Linked DNA regions of Homo sapiens: region 2 is linked to region 1. The links come from fine-mapping of genetic effects on gene expression. Tissue or cell type: whole blood. Region 1 holds a variant in brackets; the other region holds the start of a gene. All regions are shown on one strand. Distances are from middle to middle.

What was found. PIP is the estimated chance that this variant, and not a neighbour inherited with it, causes the effect.
Region 2: FXYD6 starts here. The variant in region 1 is fine-mapped to the expression of FXYD6 in whole blood (TOPMed, PIP above 0.99).

The regions. Positions count from the first base shown.
Region 1 is chr11:117,840,459-117,843,137 of GRCh38, forward strand. FXYD6-FXYD2 (FXYD6-FXYD2 readthrough) reads right to left here. Exons shown (of 10, transcript NM_001243598.4): 2 at 2,261-2,323; 3 at 1,532-1,570; 4 at 1,333-1,407. The coding sequence starts at 2,318. It overlaps FXYD6 (FXYD domain containing ion transport regulator 6), which reads right to left. Exons shown (of 8, transcript NM_022003.4): 2 at 2,261-2,323; 3 at 1,532-1,570; 4 at 1,333-1,407; 5 at 690-726. The coding sequence starts at 2,318. Among named protein-coding and RNA genes, the nearest start is that of FXYD6-AS1, 8.1 kb to the left of the region's middle. RefSeq lists an enhancer at 1,254-2,453. The variant G/C (reference allele first, on the strand shown) is at 1,676.
Region 2 is chr11:117,875,510-117,878,188 of GRCh38, forward strand. FXYD6 (FXYD domain containing ion transport regulator 6) reads right to left here and starts at 1,149. Exons shown (of 8, transcript NM_022003.4): 1 at 1,083-1,149. It overlaps FXYD6-FXYD2 (FXYD6-FXYD2 readthrough), which reads right to left and starts at 1,149. Exons shown (of 10, transcript NM_001243598.4): 1 at 1,083-1,149.

The DNA.
Region 1 (2,679 bases):
TGCAGTCAGGCTCCTCCCAGTGCCCTGAGGGGCTGGAGCTCACTCTGCTGTGGGATGCATGGGACAGAGGGAAAGGTCTGGACTGAAGGGTCAGACTCAGAGGGAACTTACAGGCACCCTTCAATGTCAGCCCTCATGGGAAGGGGAGGCTAGGGCCACATGGGGGCTTGGGTGTGTCCTGCCACACGCTTTGGACTTCTGGGGTCCAAGCTACCCTTGGCTATTATAGTAAACTAATGGGGTATGACCTCTATGTGGGAGTAGAAAGAAGGTCCAAGTGTCTATTCAGCTCAAAGAGCCTCATGAACAGGTGACAAGTGGGGACTGTGTCGCAGGTCCTGTAGAGAGGACCTGGGCATCTAGAGAGGCCAGGAAGCCCTCTGCTTCCCTTCTCCCAAGCTCAACTGTCCCAAGGGCCTCCAGAAAAGGTTCCAGTACTTTCTTGTCCACTCCCCGTCCCCCACATAGATCAGAAGAGACAGGATGGGCTGACCTTCAATGTTTTGACCTCTCCTTTGCCCCAGAGTCTACCTGGCAGTCCTCAAACTTCCAGCCCTACGTCCCAACACACACGTTCTGCCTCCGAGACAAGAATCCAAGAGAATGCCCATTTGGGGGTCACACACCAGGGGTCCCTTCCTGTCCCACCTAGTATCACCCCCCCAAGGCCACTGCCACGGCATCCTTACCGGGGCTTCTGATTGAAACTGCACTTGCACCTGCGACCTGAAAAGCAAAGAAACCATCCAAGGTCATGCTGCTGGCTTGGCCACAGCAGGGCCAAGGGTCTGTGCAGGTTGTGGGACTATGTAAATGGCACCCCCTAGACCTGGGCAGTGCACAGTTTGCACAGCTGCACACAGTGGCCCTCGGATGGGGTAGCTTCTTCTGGGGCAAAGGAAATACATTCTATAGCTGGAATGGCTACACCCCCACAGCCCTCTTGATCATGTGAGTAAAGAGGGATCTGTGCAGATCAGGCTCATGTGGGAACAACAAACTCGGAGGCACATCCCTCGCACACTAGGGCAGCACCTGTCTCCTTCCTCCGTGACTGCCCCATTCATGCCCTATAGACACAGCACTGGGAAGCCACCCTGCTCGTTCCTATCTATGCTCATTGTCATATGACATTTTCTTTGTTCCCGTGTCACTGTTTTACTGAGCACTTACTATGTGCCCAGCACTCTACTGGGTCGTGAAGATAACACGGAGGGCAGGCAGCCTCCTTTCCTCTCCAGGAGAGGGACCAACCAGGCTCTCACACTGTCCCCACCTGCTTAGCAGCCTCAGTCATTGCTCTTAACAGAGTGAGCAAAAGAACAAACTTACTTAGGATAAGGAGGATCCCAACCGAGAAGAGGACCACAGCGAACACCAGTCCCCCAATCCTCAGGGTCTGGTAATCTGCCAAAGGAACCAAGGGTGAGAGAGGAAGGGGCCAGGGAGAGGGTGTCTGTTCCCCCTACCCCTCCTGCCAGGCAGGGCTGCATTCCCCCTGACCCCTGCACCCAGGGTTGCCATCGCTCACCATAATGAAAAGGGTCCATTTCCTTCTCCTTTTCAGCTGCTGCAAAAACAAACAGTTGGTCAAGAGAAAGAAAGCTACACAAACTGGTTCCCAAATATCTAACCTTGCCTCACAGACCTCAGTCTCCACAAAGGAATTCCAGAG[G/C]AGCAGGGCCCATTAAACAGAGATGCCTAGAGGTGCACGGTAGGGCGGGCCTGCCAGTTAGGGGGTTAGGGGAACCCTAAGGGCCGAGGTCAGTGAAGGCATCGAAACTCAGTGAGGCTCTGAGTCATGCAACACCCACATTCATTGCCCCTTTGTATTCTTACATCATCCCCAGAAGGCAGGGTCAGTTTTCCTCTTGTGACACACGGAGAAACCGAGACCAAGGAAGGACATATGACTTGCACGAGGCCAGCACTTGCTAATATGGTCTAGAGACTGATGTGCAGGTCTGAATCCCAGGGTTCAGGCCACAAATCCACAGAGGCGCAGTGAGCTTGCGGGGCTTAAAAACTACTCCCTGCCGGACCCTTAGGGGGCGAGGGGGCAGGCTGTGCTGAGGTCTGTGAATAAATAGCTGCCACCTCCACGACTTTCTCTGCTGACTGAAGGGAGAGGCCCCTGACTAGACATGAAGAACGTGAGAGTCCCCCAGCCCTAATGTCCCAAGGGGCCCAGAACCTTCCAGCAGAGAGGGCTGGACAGGGTTGTCATCTTGTCACAGCCAGGTCCCAGAGGGGTACTTACCACTGGCCAGGACCATGGGGGCCAGCAGGCTGCAGAGGAAGACCAGCACCAACTCCATGGCGTCTGGGGACAGAGGGAGGAAAAAATGATTCTCTGGCTAAGAAGCCTCCATCCGTCAGCTCCAAGCGTCAGCCTGACCAGGGGCCAAGCCAAATCCCCAGCTTTGCTCTGCACTCATGACTTGGTGAGGGTTCAAACAACCTAAGCACAAGCAGTTGACTTTTTTTTTTTTTGAGACAGAGTCTCGCTATCTTGCCCAGGCTAGAGCGTAGTGGCATGATCTCGGCTCACTGCAACCTCCGCCTCCCAGGTTCAAGTGATTCTTCTGCCTCAGCCTCCTGAGTAGCTGGCATTAGAGGCGTGTGCCATCATGCCCGGCTAATTTTTTGTATTTTTAGTAGAGACAGGGTTTCATCATG
Region 2 (2,679 bases), 35 kb after region 1:
AGTCACGTGCAAAAGGCTAAGTTGCGGACGTAGACATACACATCCATAATATGAGGGTGGCTGGATCCCCAAAGGGGGCTCCTTTCAGAGAGGGCCTGAGATGCCCACTGATCCATCTTCAAAGCTGGAAATCTTAGCCCAGCCAGACAGCACGAAGCCACAGAGACAAAGGAAGTAGTGGCAGAGAGCACACTGGTGGGGAGAAGCCTCCAGTAGCCACGGTCCCGCGAGCGTGCAGGCTTGCAGCAGGTGACGCGGCAGACCCATGTTTCCAGCGAGGCTGCTCCCAGCTCCCACCCTCGGGTGCCTCCTCTACCAGCCACCACTTGTAAGAGCCAGAAGCCAGCGCTGGGAGCTCCAGGCTGCACACCCAACTCTCCACGGAAGCCCGGGAGACACAATAGGGGAGGCTCTGCCAGGGCCAGCCCTGCTGGGGAAAGGGGGCAATGGCGGACCCCAGGGCCCCCCGGAAAGGAAACAGGATTGGATGGATAAGACAAGAAGGAGGGAAAAAATGATGCACTCTCATGAATCCCCGAGCGCTAGAATCCTTCTTTCCCTGCGCCCCCATCCTGTGCCCACTGCCCAGCCCCACCTTCCCCAAGCACCAAACCAGCAAGTTCCATTTTGTGTCGCTCATAAGTCCACACTCACACCCAGCCACACGCCCTCGTCCGTAATTCCCCACGCTCCACCAAGTGTCCACAGCTTCCAAGTAACAAAGGGAAAACTCCTCATGGATAAAGGGTGGGCGCAGCCCTTTCCCCTTCTCCTGAAAACCCTGACCCCAAGCTCAAGGCAGCACCGAGAGCAATTCCCAGCCACCAGCGTCACCCCCAGCGCCACAGCCTGCCTCCCCTAGAGGCTCCTCTCTCTTCCGACGCCGATCTCCTTGTTTACATCCCCAGCCCGGTTTCCCGCTGCCCAGGCGGGGACCGCGGCGCAGCTGACCGCGGAGGACCGCACACACCCACTGAACACACAAAACCCGGCGCTCCCGGCGCTCCAGAGATCGGTCCCCACCGAGCCTCGCCCCTCCTCGGAAAAAGGAGCCAACTTTGCCCACCTCCCCAGCCGCCTACCTGCACAGCCGGTCCCCTCCGAGACTCCCAGGAGGACCCGCCGAGTCCCGAGGAGCCTGGGAGTGGCGGGGCTGGGGGCAGGGCGGTGGGTGAGGCTTGAGCTGCTTTCCCGCCTCCCCTCCTCCTAGGAGTCGGGCTGGCTGGGAGGCGCGTCCTGCGGGGGCGGGGGGGGGGCTCGCTCGGGGCTGGGCTCGGGGACAGCCCACTCCGTGCTGCCGTCCGCTGGCTTCTGGGTAGCGGCCGCGCGCAGACCCCCTCTCCTCCTCTCCCTGTCCGTCCTCCCGCTCTGTGCTCGCGCGCGTCCTCTGCTCCTCTCTCCTCTCGAGGGGCGGAGAGATTTTTCCAAAGGGCAGTCAAGCTCCGAGAAGCAACAGGAGACTGCCGCCGAGGAGGCGTGCAAGCGCCGGAGCGGATTTGCCATCAGCTGTTGCTTTTCGGTTTCCCTCTGGTTAGGGTGGGAAGGGAGCAAGACAGGCACAATGACAGACCTGGTGTCTCTCTGCAATAGTAAACCCCGAGGAACGGAAAAATAGGAGAAAATAACCCAGCACCAGACACAGCAGCCCACGTTAATTGGGAGCCTTGGTAATTAAGGGGAATGTGCACCAAAAGCATGAATGGCTGTGTCGTGGGCGCAGGAGCCAGCTCCAGTTGTAGTTGTCATTTTCAGCTAGAGCCAGGTGGGGAGCTGGGGGGATGGTCCTTACCTGAACCATAGATCTGCTGCCTTGAACCCCCTTTTCAAGCCCCATCCACCTCTGGCCCTGCCAGGAGCAGTACCACCCCGTCCTCAGCCCAGTCCCCAAGAGTCAAAATTCATGATGACGAACTTTGAATGTGAAGATGTAAATAAATCCTGGCTCGGCAACCCTGCCTGTGACGCGACTTGGAGCATATCTCTGCACTCAGCTCCTGAGTCTATTTCCTCACGTGGGAAAATGGTGATTAGAGACTGACCCCATGGGAGGCTTAGCTCATAGTGAGTGCTCAAGAAATTGGCTCTTACTATTAGGGGCAGAGCTTGTAGGAAGGGGCAGAGGCCAGGCACAAGTGTCAGTAGCCAGGAGCCATGCTGAGATGGAGGCTGTCCAGCCTCAGTCAAGGTGTGTGTATGGCCGAGCCGGGTGGAGGGAGGAGCTACTGAGAAAGGCTGTGATTGTCCAAGCCTAGGTAGGGCCACGGAGAGTTCCTTACAAACCCCAAGCCGGGGATGATGGGTACTGCTAGGAAGAAACCTAGCCCTGCCTCTGCTGCCCTCAGTTCTGGGCCTGTTTTCTCATTTGGGAAAATAGGGAGATGGACTAGATGATCCTGAGGTCTCTTCCAGCTCTGCCCTAGATGATCTAATTATTTTAATAAAAGGTCAGGTCTCAAAACCCCAAGGCAGGAAATATACATGAACTCAAGAAGACTTTGGAACCAGTAGGGGAACCATAAATAGCTACTGAGAAAGAGCACCCAAAAAGCCTCCCCTCAGGGGATAGTTCTGGCCCCTTAATCATGGGACCTGGCTGAATGGATGCCACTCTGGCCCAGTCCTGAACTCCCTGGGGTTCCTGTGAATGCTAAAGCTCCTTCTCCAAAGCCAGACTCAAAT